5 linked regions of the Homo sapiens genome follow. The protein of the gene in region 5 purifies or fractionates together with the protein of the main gene of each other region. This does not show direct contact. Each region holds a gene or a part of one and is shown on either strand. Other genes may lie near its edges. The genes, in order: IPO9, TBC1D9B, SMYD2, CNTROB and PPFIA1.

Evidence for each region.
Region 1: the proteins of PPFIA1 (region 5) and IPO9 fractionate together in Homo sapiens (co-fractionation; one large-scale study listed by BioGRID). This does not show direct contact.
Region 2: the proteins of PPFIA1 (region 5) and TBC1D9B fractionate together in Homo sapiens (co-fractionation; one large-scale study listed by BioGRID). This does not show direct contact.
Region 3: the proteins of PPFIA1 (region 5) and SMYD2 fractionate together in Homo sapiens (co-fractionation; one large-scale study listed by BioGRID). This does not show direct contact.
Region 4: the proteins of PPFIA1 (region 5) and CNTROB purify together in Homo sapiens (co-immunoprecipitation; one large-scale study listed by IntAct). This does not show direct contact.

What each region holds. Positions count from the first base shown.
Region 1 is NC_000001.11:201,856,305-201,860,344, forward strand, and holds part of IPO9 (importin-9), read left to right. Parts: intron 1-791; coding exon 792-890; intron 891-2,142; coding exon 2,143-2,249; intron 2,250-2,550; coding exon 2,551-2,690; intron 2,691-4,040. UniProt on the Homo sapiens protein: Nuclear transport receptor that mediates nuclear import of proteins, such as histones, proteasome and actin. Serves as receptor for nuclear localization signals (NLS) in cargo substrates.
Region 2 is NC_000005.10:179,862,488-179,866,527, reverse strand, and holds part of TBC1D9B (TBC1 domain family member 9B), read left to right. Parts: intron 1-639; coding exon 640-690; intron 691-1,167; coding exon 1,168-1,274; intron 1,275-2,399; coding exon 2,400-3,080; 3' UTR 3,081-4,040. UniProt on the Homo sapiens protein: May act as a GTPase-activating protein for Rab family protein(s).
Region 3 is NC_000001.11:214,311,780-214,315,819, reverse strand, and holds part of SMYD2 (N-lysine methyltransferase SMYD2), read right to left. Parts: intron 1,059-4,040; coding exon 948-1,058; intron 1-947. UniProt on the Homo sapiens protein: Protein-lysine N-methyltransferase that methylates both histones and non-histone proteins, including p53/TP53 and RB1. Specifically trimethylates histone H3 'Lys-4' (H3K4me3) in vivo. The activity requires interaction with HSP90alpha.
Region 4 is NC_000017.11:7,945,706-7,949,745, reverse strand, and holds part of CNTROB (centrobin), read right to left. Parts: intron 4,019-4,040; coding exon 3,760-4,018; intron 2,380-3,759; coding exon of another isoform or gene 2,246-2,379; exon of another isoform or gene 2,186-2,245; intron 2,176-2,185; coding exon 2,024-2,175; intron 1,831-2,023; coding exon 1,767-1,830; intron 1,590-1,766; coding exon 1,419-1,589; intron 1,260-1,418; coding exon 1,127-1,259; coding exon of another isoform or gene 1,061-1,126; intron 665-1,060; coding exon of another isoform or gene 662-664; coding exon 589-661; intron 362-588; coding exon 236-361; 3' UTR 1-235. UniProt on the Homo sapiens protein: Required for centriole duplication. Inhibition of centriole duplication leading to defects in cytokinesis.
Region 5 is NC_000011.10:70,371,150-70,375,189, reverse strand, and holds part of PPFIA1 (liprin-alpha-1), read right to left. Parts: intron 2,998-4,040; exon of another isoform or gene 2,979-2,997; coding exon of another isoform or gene 2,976-2,978; coding exon 2,800-2,975; exon of another isoform or gene 2,714-2,799; coding exon 2,616-2,713; intron 273-2,615; coding exon 97-272; intron 1-96. UniProt on the Homo sapiens protein: May regulate the disassembly of focal adhesions. May localize receptor-like tyrosine phosphatases type 2A at specific sites on the plasma membrane, possibly regulating their interaction with the extracellular environment and their association with substrates.

The sequences.
Region 1 (4,040 bases), on a different chromosome or scaffold from region 5:
AACCTAAGACACTGATTTTTAGGAGAATCTGTTCCTTCCCTAAAGTAAAATGTAATAATCAGACCATTAGCCTGATGGTGGGTCATCAAAAGCAGCAAAGAACGTTCAAAAATTAGATAACGCCTCGTTTAAAACAGCACAAGAATTGACATAATTTTCACAATAAATAGTCTATCAGACTTAATCTATTCAGAAAATCGATCTATCAAAGGGTAACAGCAGGTTGACATTGGCAGAGAGCTAGTAATCAGCCAGATTCTAAAAGAGAGCAATAGCCATTGCTACCTACCTTGCTACTTAATAGTATTTATTTCTCTACATCAAAAAGAAAAGATTTTTTTAAGCTAGAGTTTTTGTTTCAGTTTTTGTTGTTGTTGTTGTTTTGTTTTGTTTGCTTTTTGGGACAGGGTCTTGCTGTTTTGCTCAGGCTGGAGTGCAGTGGTGTAGACAAAGCTCACGGCAGCCTTGACCTCCCAGGCTCAAGCCATCCTCCTGCCTCAGCCTCCCGAGTAGCTGAGACCACAGGCATATGCCACCATGCCCAGTTGACTTTTTTATTTTTTGTAGAGGTGGGGTCTCACTATGTTGCCCAGGCTGGTCTCAAACTCCTGGGCTCAAGCAGTCCTCCCACCTTGGCCTCCCAAAGTGTCAGGATTACAGTTGTGAGCCATTGCATCCAGCAAAAGGCTAGAGTTTTTTCAGGATAATAGGTTGAAATCTTCCTGTATCTGTTGATGAAAAGCTATGAATCAGATTGGCAGCATCACAAAGACATAACTTGATCTTTTCAGATTAAAGTATGGACAGCCAACCCCCAACAATTTGTAGAAGATGAAGATGATGATACATTCTCCTATACTGTTAGAATAGCAGCTCAAGACTTGTTGCTGGTAAGTTTACCTTGATACTTCAGCCACATAATTTCTATCAGTCACTTGAGCATTTCTTCTTTTTTGTAGACAACTAATCCAAGGTGAGCAGTGTTGTTGGGTGGCTTTATCTCAGACTTTATTGGGGATGCAAGAGAGTTTCTGAAATGAAATTCGAGACTCAGAAATTCTAAAATCATTGCTACTGGTTCTAACTTAAAACTAAATATTAGATAAAAGAATTGTGCAGACCATAGGGCCGGGGTGCGGGGGAGAATTGTATAGAGGATAAAGTGTTCCATGGAGTAAGGGTAGTTGAATCAAGAACATTTCAGTTTATGGCTGGGCGTGGTGACTCACACCTGTAATCCCAGCACTTGGGGAGGCCGAGGCGGGCAGATCACCTGAGGTCCAGAGTTCAAGACTAGCCTGACCAACATGGAGAAACCCCATCTCTACTAAACATACAAAATTAGCCGGGCGTGATGGCGCATGCCTGTAATCCCAGCTACTCGGGAGGCTGACGCAGGAGAATTGCTTGAACCCGGGAGGCGGAGGTTGTGGTGAGCCAAGATTACACCATTGCGCTCCAGCCTGGGCGACAAGAGTGAAACTTGGTCTCAAAAAAAAAAAAAAAAGCCATTTCAGTTTAATTCACTCTTCAACAAGAATCTATAGCACAGACAAAAGGTTGGCAAACCTAGCAAAACAAAACAGATTGCTGAAAGATTAACATCCAAATACCTGCTCATGTTTTCTTTGCCTCTTCTGACTAGAGCATAGAGTTGTCTCTAGGCTGAAATACTAAGAAGAAACTGCCACTTGCTTCTTGTTGGGTAGGAGATTTGTTCTCTGTTGATGAATCACTTCTCATTATCATTTAGTATTTCTAAGGAGCTGTGAAAGATTATATTCAGTTCCAATTAGTAGATTAGACTTATTTTTCTATCATCAGTCTCCAAGAGAGCAAATATTTGGTCCATTGTCATCCAAAGCTAGATCTATTATTGCTCACTTATGCTCTGCTGAATATAGCCAAAGGAGCCAACTGGTTAGCCTTACAATGCCTAGGCACTACCGAAATACAGATACTACTTTAATTTCATTAGAGACCCTGACCTACTGGTATAACATTTTTAATACAATTAGGGGTTTGCACATGTATGTGAAAGAGCTTGAACCAATCACTTCTAACAGTCATGACTGAAGCGGTTTACAATTAAAATGCATTTAATGGGCACAAACAGATTTATTAGCTCTTCTCTCTCTATAGGCTGTGGCCACAGATTTCCAGAATGAAAGTGCAGCAGCCCTGGCTGCTGCAGCCACTCGACATTTACAAGAAGCTGAGCAAACCAAAAACAGTGGCACTGAGCACTGGTAAGAGTGAGCCGCTAATTGGTTAAGATGCTTTTGTTTACCCCTTCTTAAAAAGTCTTGAAAGGATGGATTTATTTTTATCTTAATTTGAAAATCTGGTTTTAATTTAATAACAGATTTTAATCTCTTATTATTAAAATTTCACTCTTTTCAGCTATAGGTTAGAATGGAAGGGCTTAAGGTAAATGACTCTTTTGGAAGAGATTGTGCTGGAGTGCCCTTTTCTGAATCTTGTTTCCTCAAATATTTATCTCTTTTGGCAGTTTAGTATGTTTTACTAGGCTGTAGTATCCTTTCACAGGTGGAAGATCCATGAGGCATGCATGCTTGCCCTAGGCTCAGTGAAGGCCATCATCACTGACAGTGTGAAAAATGGCAGGATTCATTTTGACATGCATGGGTTCCTGACCAATGTCATCCTTGCAGACCTCAACCTCTCAGGTATGTTTCAGCACGTGCCAGGATTCTAGAAACTCTTTAAACCTGTTGTGGGGTTGGGGGAGGGATCAGCATTAGGAGATATACCTGATGTAAGTGACAAGTTAATGGGTGCAGCACACCAACATGGCACATGTATACATATGTAACCTGCACATTGTGTACATGTACCCTAGAACTCAAAGTATAATATATATATATATATATATATATATAAAGGAAACTCTTTAAACCTGTCATTAACTTGGTTATATTGTTCACTTAGACTGGTAGGCCAGATATTCTTGTGTCCTTTGAGTGAAAATTGTTTGCACCCTACAGCTTGAACTCATCCGAACCTCTAAAACAGCCCAGAGGCCGATTCAAGCTTCACCTAATGACAATCTAATATTGCCTAGTTCATAATTCTTCCGTGATGTTTATGTTTCTTCCCAAATTGGCGTTCCCATTCATGGTTGTTTTTGGCATTTGAATGGAATCCAAATCTGGTTGCTGTACCTTGAGAATTATCGAGTACTGCTCCCATTGTTAAGTCCAGAATGCCCTCAGGCATTCTGTATCAGGCACATTCTTCCTGTTTGTTTCCTGTCATTTTTCTCAAACTTTATTTTTGGCCAATATCCAAATAATTAAAATGTTCCATTCTCATACCCATGTTAGCCATCTGTCTTAAAAAGAAAAAAGTAGGCCAGGCGCGATGGCTCATGCCTCTAATCCCAGCACTTTGGGAGGCTAAGGCAGGTGACTCACCTGAGGTCAGGAGTTCAAGACCAGCCTGGCCAACTTGGCGAAACCCCATCTCTACTAAAAATATAAAAATTAGCTGGGTGTGGTAGCAGGAGCCTGTAGTCCCAGCTACTCAAGAGGCTGAGGCAGGAGAATCACTTGAACCAGGAGGCAGAGGTTGCAGAGAACTGAGATCACACCACTGTATTCCACCTTGGGTGACAGAGCGAGACTTGGTTTAAAAAAAAAAAAAAGGTAGCCCTTTACTATTAGACCGATTTCTTCCGCAATACAGAGCAGTAGCTGAGAATCATTGTTGTCTATGTGGCATTTTCTGCTACTTGCTTCTGCCATGCCATGCCTTTTCTCATCCTTGGAGCCAGATCACCATCCGAAAACACTGCCTTTGCTTTCTCTCTCAGTACTTAAATCATGGAACCTTTGGTATTGTTTGCTCCATTTTCGGTCCATTTACTTCCTCTCCATAGGATAGTTCTGGGAGTAGCTTATGTCATTTGAAAATGTTCTGCTCTGTGATTTTAAATAGGTAATCTATTATCGGGTGTCTCAGTCCATCACTTCCATTCTCTGAATCACAAATTAAAATGGTTGTACATCCAGAGCTCA
Region 2 (4,040 bases), on a different chromosome or scaffold from region 5:
GAGCAGCTCAGAACTGGGGTGCTGCCGACCTGCCTGAGGTGCCCCCACCAGCCACACTGCCTTTGGGGAACAGCTCCAGGAGAGCTGGTCGGCTGCTTCTCTCCCCAGGTGCATGTTCCCACGCAGGGAGTATAGTGCGCGCCAGTTCCGGCAAATGTCCTCCCCGAAACGCTGCACCAAGCACAGGAGCTGTGCACAGACCACCCCTCAGTAACAGGCACAGCAGGCGCGGGTGGAAGGGGTCATTAGGGTTCCCCTGAGTTCTAGCAGGAACATTCCCCAGAGTTCTAGCAGGAACTATAGAATTCGTTAGTCCTCAGACTGGTCTATAGCCCTCATCATTGTTCACGTCAAAACCAGCATGTTGAGACTTGTATTCATTTGAAAAAAGGAATTGAGGGTTTGGCGGCCTTTATTTTAACCTGACCAAGTGAGGGAATGCTCAGGCCCTTTTGCTCTGGTGCCATAGGGCGGGGCTGGGCGGGCCAGGCAGGAGGTGTGGCATGGGAGACCTGCTCCCCAGGGCCTGGCCTGGGGCTGGCTGTACAGAAACACAGACTACATCTCAAGGACCCCAGGAGCTTGCAGTCCCAACAGCAGAATGTTATTCATGTTCTTTTTATTTTTGCGTTTGTCCAGAAGCACTACCACAGGAAGAGCAAGAAGGAAGTGGAAGTGAGGAGAGAGGAGGTACAGGCCATTCTCTGCCGCTGTTCTTAGAGACCCCAGCGTTGAGGCACCCTTGCTTGCTGGTCTTTTCCCCAGTCACTGCCAGGGAGCCCCCTACCCCGGGAGATGGCGGATGCGTCCCCCGATCAGGGAGCAGGCCTCGGGATGCACAGGAGGCTCCACGCTCTCCACCAGCCCCACGGGCACCCAGCCAGCCCTCTCTTGCCAGCTTCTCTCCAGCTGCCCTGTGACTCCCCATCTGAGAGAAGACATTGTGGATCATTGTCATCAGCTTAGGTCCAACCACTGCAGCAATTTAGGGAAAACCTGTGGCTGTTCTGGGTTTTTTTCCCATGACCACCTTCCCAAACGCCAGGGTGTTTTATGATAGGGCCCTGGTAACTCCATGCCAGAAAACACCCAACTCTTCCTCTCCCTGCTGTCAGCCCGCAGCCGTCTCACATGACAAAGATTAATCTCTTTCCTCCTAACCTGCAGAGGAGAAGGGGACCAGCTCTCCGGACTATCGGCACTACCTTCGAATGTGGGCCAAGGAGAAAGAGGCTCAGAAGGAGACGATTAAGGATCTTCCCAAGATGAACCAGGTAGGCTCCACTGGAGCCCACAGTAGACATTTCTGGAGAGTTCTGACCAAGACTGGGCCCTAACATCACCGCACCTGCACTGCAGCATCTCCTGGTGGGTGGGAAGGCTCCTCCCTGCCTCTAGAGCCCGTTAGTCCTGGTTGCCAGTCAGCGATGATTCCAGAAAGACAAGAGGCCAGTTGCTCCAGGGCCTTGTATAGGGGCATGTTTCCAGATTGAGTGAGTGTCTGTGAACCAGGAGCCAGAGGCTTGTAGGCTACCTTTGACAAGATATGCGTTCCACACCCTGCACCCTCCCAGCCCTGCCCAGGGCTCTGCACACGCAGGCTCACATGCATCCTCCACACCCGCTCTTCATTCACTGGTCTCGCAGATCAGAAGCATGGTGTCTTGCCAAGGGTCTCAAAGCCAGAAAATGGGAGACCCCAGCTCCAAACTGCAAGCGTTGAGCCAAAGGCAAGTCTGGAGCACCAGCCTGACCATGGCCCTCGGGCCAGACCCACGGTCTAGCTGTGCCCAGTAGGGGACCCTGCAATCTGACCACTCCCCCAGCAGGCCTGGAGGGTGGGCACCACGTGCGATGAGGATTCTTCCCATTCTTGGGCCAGGAGGCCTAGACGTGTGGCTTCAGGACCTAGCACCCACCCTCCCCAGCACCCCCCTCCCCAGGATCCCCCTCCCCAGCTGACCCAGGCTGTATTTTCCTCACCATCACCTTCTAAAGAGCTTCATTCAAGGGCTGAGTTGAGGCTGCTTCTGATTAAAACCAAAGGTGATTCTAAAACACAACGAAGTCCTTGTACTGACTGGATTTAGAGTCGTGGTAGAAATCCATCTCCCTGTGCCAACAGAACGGACCTAGAAACAGGGAGGCCCCAGGTCAGACCAGCATGCTCTGAGTGCCAAGAGAAAGGCAGCTGGAGGGGAAAGCCTTTTGAAGAGCTGTGTGGCCTCTCTGAGCCTGTGTCCTGATCTGTGAGATGGGACTGATGAGGCTCATGGAGATGATTAGCAAGACGGCAGCCAACATCCTTAGGCTGGTGCTTGTCATCAGTTTGGCTAATATGGACCCCGTCTGACTGGTCTTTTACCATCTCCCTGTTCTTCTGTTTTTCTCCCTAAAAGGAGCAGTTCATTGAGCTGTGCAAGACGCTTTACAACATGTTCAGTGAAGACCCCATGGAGCAGGACCTGTACCACGCCATCGCCACCGTGGCCAGCCTCCTGCTCCGCATCGGAGAGGTGGGGAAGAAGTTCTCAGCCCGCACAGGCAGGAAGCCCAGGGACTGTGCCACTGAGGAGGACGAGCCACCAGCACCCGAACTGCATCAGGACGCAGCCAGGGAGCTTCAGCCCCCAGCTGCAGGAGACCCCCAAGCCAAAGCAGGCGGAGACACACACCTCGGAAAAGCCCCACAGGAGAGCCAGGTGGTGGTGGAGGGGGGCAGCGGCGAGGGACAGGGCTCACCCTCCCAGCTGCTGTCTGACGATGAAACCAAAGACGACATGTCCATGTCCTCCTACTCGGTGGTCAGCACGGGCTCCCTGCAATGTGAAGACCTTGCAGACGACACGGTGCTGGTGGGCGGGGAGGCCTGCAGCCCCACAGCGCGCATCGGCGGCACCGTCGACACCGACTGGTGCATCTCCTTTGAGCAGATCCTGGCCTCCATCCTGACGGAGTCCGTGCTGGTGAACTTCTTTGAGAAGAGAGTGGACATTGGACTCAAGATCAAGGACCAAAAGAAAGTGGAGAGACAGTTCAGCACCGCCAGTGACCATGAGCAGCCTGGAGTTTCCGGCTGATGCCTGCAGCTGTGAGGCCTGGCCCAAGGTGTCATCAGTGGGGCTGGCCTCATCTCCTCCTGCCTTTCCTCCCTTATCAGTTTCTCTTTAAAGGTGTGCCCCTCCTGCTCTCCCAGGAGCAGTGAGTTGTGAGTGGAAAGAAGGCTGGTGCAGACCCAGCTGCCTTAGACAGATTCCCTGGGCCTGCATCTCCTGGCGCCGGCTGCTTCTGGGCCCAGGAAGAGGCTGTGGCTCCCACCTTCCTTACACCTGGTGGGAGCCCGCCTCGCACCAGCTGCACCTGCCTAGCATTACAGGCTCTCAGATCTGCCCTTGCTTGCCTCATACCTCTGTGCTCCACACTGCGGCCAGGCCAGCTGAGTCCCTCCATCCGTGGATGCTTTCCTGCAGCTATGTGGTATGGGGGTCATTCCTGCCTCTTGGCACCAGGTTGGGGGGCATGTGCTTGTTGGGCACCAAAGTGATGGAACCCTCAGGTGCTCTCCGGGAGCCTGAACCTCCTGACTGAGGAACATGGGCAGAACATGTTTATTGCACAGAGTGGGCGCTGCGCACAGGCGTGGCTGTACACGTGCTCTCAGCTCATCATCCTTTCCAGTAACTTTAAAAAAACATCCCTCAGGTCCTGATATATTTCCTTGGATTCATTTCACTTGGCTAGAAATTACACTGTGCTCAATGCCTTAATAAATCCCTGAAAGAAATAAAAACCACTGTGTGCAATGCCTTGCTGTGGCCCCCAACCACTGCTTAGGCCTCCCAACTTCTCCCCAGGCCAAGTATGGGGCCCTGGCTGTGTTCTGGAAGTTCAAGACACTTAGTCCTCCACAGTGGGTGGAAGAGTGCAAGGTCTGCCAGGTCAGATGGAGACGCAGAACCTGCTGGTGCAAGCTGGGCAGGTCCTGACCAACCTGCATCAGGGGATGCCCTGAGCTCCACAGGTCTTCATGGGCAGGGGTT
Region 3 (4,040 bases), on a different chromosome or scaffold from region 5:
TAGGTCAATACAATCTTGAGCACAAATCTTGCTCTCAGGCAGATTTGCATAGCATCCTTGCCTTTCCTTGTAACTGCTGTACACATTTCTTCCCTATGGTATATAAGCCCTGGCTCTGGTGGGTAATGGTGCAGGGATCCACCATCTTGTCTTGCTGCCGCCCAAGACATAGACATGGCTTCAGTTCATAAGTCCTAGTAAATGTTTCTAATAAACTGGATTTGTCAGCTTCTTTCTTCTGTCTCTCAGCTTCCTCACTCTTTGAGCGTAAGTTTGCATAGTCCTGCCCACCACAGAATAGTCAGAGTTGGCATCACTTCTGGAGAAAGCCATTGATGACTATCATCTGTTTCCATCAAGGGCACCTCTTTCTTTCCTTCTTCTTCACTTTTTTTTTTTAACTCTCTTCCCCTCTCCCTTGCCTCTATTTCTACTTTTCCACTCTTTCTCTTCTTTGCACATGTCATAGTCAAGGCTGTTCCATCCAATTCTTTGCCTGCCTATGCACAGGCAAGAAAGGAGCCAAGAAAGAGCAGAATATTACACAGGAAAGGGGAACAGAGTACACTCTTTATGTCAGAATGGAAAGAGAGGAAAATCTCAAAGCTGCTCAGACCAATCTGGTTCCCTAGGAAGCTCTAATTATTTGAGGTCAGGCTTTTCATGTCACGTATTTCCATGTAAACCTGTCATGAAAACAGCTCAGAATTTCAGAGCTGTGGCTATGCTCCTGGTCTAGGGTAAGCAACATCCTAATTGCACAGGGCACACAACTAACTAGATTATGCCTGGAGTATTTTCCCCACCCCTGTCCATATGGATATGATAGGAAATGTAGTCTAAGGATGTTTAACGAGAGATGGTTACCAAAGGTCAGTTACTCATCTTTCTGACCTTTAAAAGAAAAACAAAATAAAATGCACTTGAACATTGTCCCATTTCCTCACCTGTTTGGCCAGAATCCTTGCTGTTAGTCTTACAGTCTCCGAGGGATTCCAGTTTTCCCCAAAAACAACCATGGGAGAACATTCCAGCTTGTGCATGGGCCAATCTTCTTTCTGGGAAGATTGAAAAAAACATTATTAAAAAATAGCACATACACTGGAATAAAGTGTGAGAGGAGAGGATGCAGTGAGTCCCCCTAGTTAAGGTCAAGTAAAATATGTTTCCTTTTGGAAAACACGAGGATGCTCACAAAAGCTAGAGATAAAAACATCCTTTAAGATAGGCAGGATTGTATGACCTTCACTCAGGCCTGGGTCAAGCTTGTTGGGATGAGAAGATCTACTTTGTGTTTTTTCCTCAAGCACCTCATGGCTTTCTGCAGCCCCTCATTATTCTAAACAACACATACATCTTTCCATCATCTGTGCAAGCTGTCAAATTGCAGAGGGAGCAATTTGAGTATCAGCCATTGATTTGGCTTTGTTGCCTCACAGTTCCGCTCTGGCTTTGTTCTCACGTCAGGGCAAATAATGGAGAGTTGACTTACACAGCAATGAGTCCCTTTTACAGGCGACTTTTTAAAAAGCACAAATGAGGGTTTCATGAAGGGCAACCACTGGAAAGATTTAGGAATAGTTAGGACTTCCCAAAGATGCACTGGATAAAACAGTAGTATTCTTTCTTTCCTTTTTTTTTTTTGAGACAGAGTCTCGCTCTGTTGCCAGGCTGCAGTGCAGTGGCGCGATCTCGACTCACTGCAACCTCTGCCTCCCGGGTTCAAGTGATTCTCCTGCCTCAGCCTCCTGAGTAGCTGAGATTACAGGTGTGTGCCACTACGCCCGGCTAATTTTTGTATTTTTAGTAGAGACGGGGTTTCAAGATGTTGGCCAGGATAGTCTTGATCTCTTAACCTCATGATCCACCTGCTTCGGCCTCCCAAAGTGCAGGGATTACAGGCGTGAGCCACCGTGCCTGGCCTAACAGTAGTATTCTTTCTATCATACGCCCTGAAGTTTCCCTGCCCCGGGTAGAGGGATGAAGGATATTTGCTGCTGGAAGGGTGGAGGCGCCATCACTTGAGATGGGGAAGGCATTGAGAGAAGGACACCATGGTGTTTTGGAGGCTGAGGGAAGCAAGTACTTTGAGGACTAGGGAGTAAATGATGATGCCAGTGCTGGAGATAGGCTTAGTGTGAGAGGACGGAGAATGTGATTTGGAATCATGGAAGCTTGATGATTTTCATAAAAACAAGTTTTGGTGGGATGATGGGGTAAGAAATGACAGGGAGCAGATTCAAGAAAAAATGAAAGGAGACACAGCTTAGAGTAGTGAAAAGTTGCGGGGGACTTTTTTTTTTTTTTAGATGGGAAATATCAGAGCACGTTGTATACTGATGGAAGCCCTTACACACTGTCTCTTTCACGATGGAATTGGGTACTGTCCTGCTCTGTCCTTGGCCTTCCCTAGCTCAGAAAATGGCCATAAATGCTCAGGGCAGGGAGGCTGACATGGGCGGATCACCCGAGGTCAGGAGTTTATGATTGGCCTGGCCAACGTGATAAAACCCCATCTCTACTAAAAATAAAAAAATTAGCCAAGTGTGGTGGCATGTGCCTGCAGTCCCAGCTACTCAGGAGGCTGAGGCAGGAGAATCGCTTGAACCCAGGAGGCAGAGGTTGCAGTGAGCCGAGAGTGCACCGCTACACTCCAGCCTGGGCAACAGTGTGAGATTCTGTCTCAAAAATAAAAATAAATGCTCAGGCCAGAAAGCTAGAGTCATCCTTGACGCTGCTCTCTCACTCACACTCCACATTCAGTCAGTTCTGGCAAATCCTCTGTCTCTGCCTGGAATCTGATCACTTCTTAGCTCCACAACCTTTCTACCCGGCTGCAGCCCCAACATCTCTCATGACTAATGTCCTGCCACTGCCTTCTAACTGGATGCCCGCTTCTGTCCTTGCTCCCATGGACTAGGTTCCAGAGAGCAGCCTGAGGGATTCTGTTGACAAAACTCGGATCAGGCCAGTCCTCAGCTCAAAACCTAATGGCTTTTCTCATCCAGGCAAAAGGCCAAGCGCTAAAGGTGACCTAGGAGGCCACACGTGATGGGAGCGTCCCTGCACCACCCCAGCCCATCATCCCCCACCGTACTCTCACCTGCCTCACTGCACTTAGCCACAGAAGTGTCCTGGCTGCGCCTGGAGCCATGTACCTGCCTCAAGGCCCTTCGCACTTGCTCTGTTTTGTGGCTAGCACTCTCCTCCCCTGGATATCCATGTGACTCCCTCCCTCCTCTCCAGCCGCTGCTGGAATGTCACCTTCTCAAGATACCTGCCACAATCACCCTGTCAGAAAGAGCACTTCCCCATCATTCTTCCTTTCCTTGCTTTCTGCTGCTTCTTAGTACTTCTCACCACCTGAGCATATTATATATTTATTAGTTGTTTGGTTTAGTATCTGTCTCTCCCCAGGAAAATAAAGAAATTTTGTTTTGTTCATAGCTGTAACCCCAGAACTGACAACAGTGCCTGGCATTTAGTAGGCACTCAATATAGTTGTTGAAGGAATGAAGATATCTCCCTACCCGCTTCCCTCCACACTGATCCCCCAAGAAGGAAGCACATAATGTCACTTAATGATTTAATGCAGTCTATGGTGCAGCCCCTTAGCTCAAGTTCTGGGCCAAGATGTTCTGCAGAGTTAAATAATGCCGCGCCAAATATAACTAAGAGCAGGGAGGAAAAGAAATGACAAGATATGCACAAGGGAGAAGAGAATCTGTTTTTAGCCAAAGCCTAAAATGAGAGCATGGTGATGAGGCGAAGAGGTGGGAACAGGTGGGTCTGTCTCCCTGCAGACTAATCAGCTCCCTCCTCAGCTGCAGAGCAAAGAGGAAAAGACAGAGATGACCCTCGGGATACCTGAGAGGATATGGGGACCTACCAGCTGGGGACAGATGGATCATTAACAACTATAGACAAATGCCCACTCTGACTCCAGCAACTCCAAGAAAACTCCAAGACATAATCTCTGTCCCTAACGGGCCTGCAAGCTGTTGTTTTCTGAACTGCAGGTGGTGCCTTGGTGTTTAGCA
Region 4 (4,040 bases), on a different chromosome or scaffold from region 5:
AAATCTTGTCATAGACCGTCTTCCAAAGCATTCATGTCTTTTCCCACAGGAAATGACATATAAACATGTAACATATAAAAAAAGTACTCAACCAAATGTGGTTTCTTTACGAAGTGATTCCCTACAAAACCTCTATTTTCCAAATTCCTATGAGCCAGAGACTCTGATACAGACTAATGAGCATTTATTAAAATAACAACAATGAGAGAACAAAGAGGAGAGAGGGTAGGGGGGCTCATCTCCAGACTCCCCCCCGGCTCCTCATGCTACTCGGGGCAGGGTGCCCACTTTTCTTCCGTGCGGGAGGTTTTTCAGTCTTGGGGGCTGTAGCAAGGCGGCGAGGGACAGCCTGGGAGGGAATCTGAGAGTTGAGGGAAGAGAGAGGAAGAAATCAGCGTCAGATCCTCTCAATTCCCCACCCCACTGAGGAAATGCACGTGGAGAGGGCCAGATGAGTCTGCAGGGAGGAAAGGCCATGCTACAGAATGCAGGGGTGGAATGGAGGGGCCAGCCAGGAGTGTGCAGAGGTGAAGGAGCTGGTCAGTGAGAGCCCTTTTCTCCCCTGGTCCCTGCCTGACTTTCCCTCACCTCTTTCCGGGGGATCTCACCCAAGCGGGAGTCTGTGTTCCTTCTGGGGACATTATCCCCTCGGCCATCAGTCCTGCTACACAAATCAAAGGTATGAGGATGGGGATCTCCGTCCCCCCGGTTACCCAATACTGGATGGAAGAACTACTCCCCAATTCTATCTCTTAAGAATAAGATCAAACTCGATAGACCTGGGCATCAACTGGGAGGAGACATTAGTGGAAGTAAATAACGAGTTACACTAGCTAGTCAAAAGTCTAGGATTCTGAGTTTTGAGCTGAGGGGTAAAGAGGAAAAAAACGAAGGTAGAGAGACCCGGGGAAAAGATTTTTTTGTTTAGAAGAAAAAAGCAATAGAAAGGAGGAGATAAAAGAAAAGTGTGGGGCAGTTAGAGAAGATCTGTGGATCCACCTCTCATCCTTCACTTTCCTCCCCAGAAAAGGACAACGATTCAATTCAGTGTAAAACACACCCACTCCACTCCCCATAATCCAGCTTCCACCCGGAGAATCCTTCCTCCTTCCTCCCAGGCTTGTACCCGCTGTGTTCCAGCCTCTTCAGGTAGAGCAGGAGATCCTCAGCAGGCAGAGCCCCCCAGCCCCGAGCCTGGTAGAGTCGCAACAGTTGAGACACCTCCATCAGCTGCCTTGGGAATGTAAGCCCATCTCCACCTGACAGACATCGCAATAATCACAGGCGTCATCCTAGGGCCTGTCTCCCCAGCCCTCAGCCCATTTCCCCAGGAATTCAGAAGGACTGTAAGTGCCTGTACTGGATCCACACTCAGGACTGTCCCTCCTTTTTTCCCTAATAAACCAGAACATGCTCACCTCTCTCTGGGGAACCACTGCTGGGACCACTGCCTTGTGAATGGGAGGAGGGAGGCTCAGGGACCCGGAAAAGACTGGATGCCATGGCTAAGGGAACTTTGGTTTTGTGGACAGGCGGTGGAATACGTGGCACTTGAGGGGCTTCCTCCCAAGATGGGACAGTCAGAGGACCTAGCAAAAGGAAAGAATGCCAAGAATCAGGAAATGGGGCATAGAACCAAGGAAGTCCCACCACCCAGCATTTATAAGGCTTTATTACTTTTGCCAGCTCCTAAAAATTCATCCTAGATAACCAACTCCGATCTTTCCTAGGCCCCAGCCCCAACCTTCTTCAGAGTTGGAACTCACCAGACTTAGGGGGCAACAGGTCGACAGAAGGGTTCTCATTGTTCTGGGGCACTGTCTCCAGCAACTGTGGGTGAATAAGATTGTCAAGTTCCCTAGGGACTGATAGAGAAAAACGCCCAGGGATCTGAGAGAAGAAGCTGGGACAAAGAGTTAGTCATAAACAGGGAATGAGGCCAGAGTCCTGGATTCCCAGAGCAGAAAGAGGAAAGGAGAAAGGGAAGAAGAAAGTGAGCTAGTCTGGGTGGAATCTCTCTTACCTGGTGCAAAAAATTCTTGAGGCCCTCCAGCTGAGCAGGCGGCAGCCCTTGCTTTAGGAGGCCCTCCCCGTCAGGTCCAGGATCTTCCTCAGGGAATGGCCTTTCTGCCCTATGATCGGGATGGAAGGCCCCAAGTGCAGAGAAGGCCCCAGCTATAAAGTGAAACAGGTATGGGTGGGTGCAAGTGTGTTCAGGGGGGAAGGGGCTTCTCCACAAATCAACTCACCTAATACTCAGAAGAAAGGGGCCTATTAAATGGAAGAGGAACATCACAGCTAAGAGAAGATGAAGATGGAGGTTTAAAGTAGCTGGAGAGGGAAGGGTTGGAGGTGACTGAGAGATGGCACAGCTGAATTCTAAGACAGAAATATAGACAGAAGAAAGCTGTGGTACTCAAACTCTAAACAAATAAATACCCTCACAAACTCCCTGAAGAATGGAAATGAGTAACACACATGTTCTGACCTCTTCCCCCGAATATGCCTCATTCTTTTATTATTCTCACATAATTAAAAAATTTTTAATTGTGCTACAACTAATCTCTCTTTTTTTTTTTTTTTTTGAGATGGAGTCTCGCTCTGTCGCCCAGGCTGAAGTGCAGCGGCGCGATCTCGGCTCACTGCAAGCTCCGCCTCCCGGGTTCACACCATTCTCCTGCCTCAGCCTCCCGAGTAGCTGGGACTACAGATGCCTGCCACCACGCCCGGCTAACTTTTTTGTATTTTTAGTAGAGACGGGGTTTCACTGTGTTAGCCAGGATGGTCTCGATATCCTGACCTTGTGATCTGCCCGCCTCGGCCTCCCAAAGTACTGGGATTACAGGCGTGAGCTGTAATCTCTTTTTTTTTTTTTTAAGAGACAGAGTCTTGCTGTGTTGCCCAGGCTAGAGTACAATGGCAACTTCTTAGCTCACTGTAGCCCCAAACTCCTTGGCTCAAGCAATCCTTCTGTCTCAGCCTCCCTGGGTAGCTGGAAATTTGGGTGTGTGCCACCACATCCTGCTAACTTTTTATTTTGTGTAGAGATGAGGTCTCACTATATGGGTCAGACTGGTCTGGAACTCCTGGCACCAAGCCATCCTCCCACCTCAGCCTCCCAACGCGCTAGCATTACAGGCGTGAGCCACTGCACCCGGCCCCATCCCTCATTTTTAATTCGACCTAGGTTGTCATGTTTGTACCACACAGAATGCCCCCATCCACTCAAATCACAGGTGACATTAAACTAGGGGTGGACACCACACCCAAGGTCAGCCAATCCAATCAGATGGCCTCTTTAAACTGGACCTAAAAAAACTGAGACACCGATGTCTCTATAAATGTCTAGAGGCTCAGCTAGAGTCAGTATCACAGCTGGTCAAACCCATGTGTAAACTGAAGTTATGAAGGGTGAGAACCTTGAATGCTGGTCTAGCAAGAAAAAAGAGCAGATGTGCAGGAGAGGTGGACCCAGGAGGCTATGCAGGCCCACAGAAAAGGGCCAGCTAGCTGCCTCAGTTCCTGATAGTACCCCGTTCCCAACTCCAGTTCTCATTAAGTCCAGCGATGTCATATTTCCATGAGATCTCAATCCCTTTATTTGGACCAATGTGAGCAGATTTCTGCTCCTTGCAACTTGCGATCACTAAAGGCATCTGGGAAACTAAATGCTCAAGTATCAGACAGAAAGCAGGGTACGAAAGAGGGAGCCAATTCATGCACAGAAGGGGAACCCCAGTGACTTCTGCCCCCAGTTACCTGTGGATGAAGTGAGGTCTGGTTTGGGCTCCAGGGGCTGGAAAGAATGCTGGCTCTGAAAAGAGGGGCCCAACAGGAGGCTAAGATCTGAGGAGGAACTGCAAAGAACAGGAGGCGCTCCAGGTAGCTCGTCCCTTGCTTCCCGGCTCTGCTGCAATACAGGCTTCAGGGCCACGGCCATGGGAGGCATAGTCCAGACCCTCCTCTCCTCCTTCTCGGGCTCCTGAGGCCCGGGGCTGGAGGGTCCAGCAGGAGGAGCCTGACCAGGAGAGAGGCAGAAA
Region 5 (4,040 bases):
TTTTTTTTAAAGTTTCTTTCTATTCGAATAACTAGCTGTCTATAATCAGGGTGCCAACTGAACAATGAGTGCAGACACAGACAGGTTTGGCGTCACCTGTGTGTTCTGCGTCGGGATCTGTAACAGCAGTGCCAGTGCACTGAAGTCGAAGGTTTCATCTAAGGCCAGAAGTGCTCCGTGAACACCACTCTCTATAAGATTGTTTGCATATTCTTTAAGGCCAATTGACAGGATCCAGCGAATCACTCGATCATTGCTCCAAACAAGCACGTCTGCAAAAGAATAAAGACAATTATAAAAGTGGCTTCAGAAAGCCATCTTTATCACATGTACCCTGTAATGCAGGAGAAAGATTCCTACCATGGTTCCTAATCCTTCGGCTCCTGAGAAAAGTGCTGGGAGACACTGCTAAATAGACAACCATTTGCTGCACTGAGACAATGGTGTCCTGGCCCTGCTCCACTCTCAGGGAGACTCTCCCATTAGAACTCATCCTTCCAGTGAGCACGAGAGGAATGAAGTTATTATTTCTAGAGAAAAGAAGATGATGAGGATCCAGGGATCAGAAGCCAGAGGACTGCAAGAACTTGAATACCTAACATGTATAAACATGCTTCACACACAGACTGGAGAGTCTTCTGAAATACTTCATCACGGATGGAGCTGGCTCCATAATAATATGAACACTTTGCTCAATTCAACAGAAACCTCTCATTTCTAATCTCGAAGTCTTTGTCTCATTTTAAAATGAGAGAAACTTAACAATATCATCCAGCACATTAGAGACTTTGCAGAAAATCTTTTTTTTTCCTCTCTTTTTCTTGACAATGTCCTGCTCTGTCACCCAGGCTGGATACAGCCTGGTACCATCATAGCTCACTGCAGCCTCAACCTCCTGGGCTCAAGTGATTTTTCCCACCTCAGCCTCCTGAGGAGCTGGAACTACAGGCGTGTGTCACGAAGCTCAGCTAATTTTTTTGTACTGACAGGGTCTCACTATGTTCCCCAGGCTGGTCTTGAACTCATGGGCTCAGACAATACTCCTGCCTTGGCCTCCCAAAGTGCTGAGATTACAGGCATGAGCTACCATGCCCAGCCACAATATCTTATGCAAATTAACAAATTATTCAATTTGCTCTATTAGATCTAAAAATAGCCACTCTAAAAATATATGCAGATGATCACCAATCACTTCCAAAGACACTTCCAAAGATCTTTGTCTATTGGAAAAAGATGTAAAATAGATACAGAAAACAAAACAGATGGACATATTTCATTGCCAATGCCCTTTTCTGGATAAAAGTCCATACATATACACACACTGTATAAATGTCGACTTACGACTTTTCTCCTGATTCACATTAACTCAATCACAAGTAGACTTCCCTTCAACTGGGCCATCTCCCAACCATATTTTTATCCTTAGTTTCTTTCTTAGTATAAAGTGGGGATGAAAACAGCACTTAGACTGACAGGGCTAAGGTAAAGATGAAAGAAAGCAACCCCTGAGTACTTAGAACACCACCTGGCACCTACTCACTGTTAGTAAGACTGGCCTCTTCTTATCATTATTGTTATTGGTGACTTCCTTGCATTCCAGGAATTCTGGGAGTCATTACTCTGAGCTTAATGTTTACTGTCTAATTTTAAAAGCAAATTCTGACTGGGTGTGGTGGCTCACACCTGTAATCCCAACACTTTGGAAGGCCAAGGTGGGAGGATCCCCTGAGCCCAAAAGTTCGAGATCAGCCTAGGCAACATAGCGAGACCCTGTCTCTACAAAAAAAAAAAAAATTCCAGGCATGGTGGAGCACACCTGTACTCCCAGGAGCTACTAGGGAGGCTAAGGCAGGAAGAGCACTTGAGCCCAGGAGTTCAAGGCTGTAGTGAGCTGTGATCACACCACTGCACTCCAGCCTAGCCTGGGCTACAGAGCAAGACCCTGTCTCAAAATAAATTAAATAAATAAATAAACAAACAAACAAATAAATTTGAGTACGAGTGAGGGACTCCCCAACGGAGAAGAGAACCAACTCCACGTCTTCTGGATGAATGTCTCACATCCTCTAACGCCTCCCTGGCCTGTGTTTTCCAACTGAAATGCCTTTTCCTTACCCTAAGCAGCTCCTCCTCCTTCTTCAAGGACCAGCTGAAATGCAGACGCTGCCTCTCCTTCCCCTCCGGGAGCAGAACTGCACGGTGCTCTCCTGTTCTCCTGAACCCCTTGGATAAGCCCCCAGTCATATTTCTCACACTTGAATCATCAAGTGAGCTTTGCTCTGTTGTTATCTAACAGTGTGGAACAGCATTTCGGAGTGAAGGAGTACACAGGGCATGACCAAAGGAAAACTCTCAACTCACAGGAAACGACTAGCCGGAGACATTTAACCTCCAGACTGATGTGTGAGAACACAGGGAACAGTTCTCTAGCTGTGGAAGAGAATCTCAAAAGCACTCAACTTCATCCAGCCCTCCTCTGCAATGACACTAGACTAGTTAGTTTTCTCCACTTAAATTTAGCCTTTCTTGATTTTTTGAAAAATAGGAAGTCACTGAGGCTCCAAACACACCAGCAAGTAGGAGTAAACCGAATCAATTAAATGTCATGTACTAACCTTTTATTTCACTCTGACTTTCTTCTCTTTTTCTTTCCAGTTCTTTCCGGTCATAATTTAACCTTCTCAGGCACATAATTCCACACTGGAAACTGTTTCTATTTGGAAGAAAAGAGAGATGATTTAGAGATGGTAACAGTGAAAAATCTTAGCCAATTATTAAGAACTATCTCCATTAAGTTACCTGTGAAAACTGTCGACCATTTTCAGCTGCCCTCGAAGGTCTTTCTTGGTCAAGTGGTCCAGCATCCTGGCGTCTACAAGGCACTCCATGAAGTAGCTGCGGTACTGGGGGAGGCCCAGGCTGGGGAGCCACTCGTTGCCGATCCACTCGTGGTTCATGTCCCCATAGGCGAGTGTCTGCTTTTCATAAATGGAAAAGGTCAGTTACAGAGGAAGTCTCAAAAGTAGTTTATATCATTTTTAAAATGAATTTTTAATCTATTACCTATATTCTCAAAGGCTAAACTAATGATAATTTTATAATTGCAAAATAATTTGATCTCTTCTCACCTTTTAAATTTGTTAGTAAAATTTTTATACAACAGGAATAGTAACATGAAAAATATATGATTCGTTGTGATAAATTTAACTTTTAAATCAAACTACAAAAAAACTGTAACTGGCTATAAATTTCCTCTCTGAGATAGTTTTTAGTATAATAATGTGACAAAGATTGATCACGACTCATGAACAAGTTTGAAGGCTCAATTCAACACTGCTCACTAAAATTATCTCTGGTTGGTTTACATTTTAACACTTTGTTTTCCTAAAGAAAAAATCCATTTCAAAATCAGTAAAAGTCAGTTAAAATATAGTTTTAGAGAAGAGATAAAGCAACAACCAACAGGACTAAATGGGGAAACAGGCAAATTCACAATTATAGTTGAAAAAATTCAACACTTCTTTCTCATAGCAACTGATGAAAGAAGCAAAAAAAGAAAAAAATTAAGAATATAGAAAACCTAAACTAACAACCCTTAACAAACTTGACCTGACGTTTCATAGAACACACCACCCAACAACAGAATATAGAACACTCCACCCAACAATGGAATGTAGAACACGCCACCCAACAACAGAAGATAGAACACGCCACCCAACAAGAGAATACAGAACACGCCACCCAACAAGAGAACATAGAACACGCCACTCAACAACAGAATATAGAACAATCCACCAAACAACAGAATATAGAACACTCTACCCAACAACAGAATATAGAACATGCCACCCAACAACAGAATATATATGCTTTTAATGTCTGTATAGTATATTCTCAAAGACAGACAAATCTCAACATACTTAAAGAGACTGAAATCAAGGTACATTCTCTTGACTTCAACAGAAATTAGAAATCAATAATAAAAAGCTATCTAGAACCCCCTACTAAATATTTAAAAATTAGCATACTTCTAAATAATT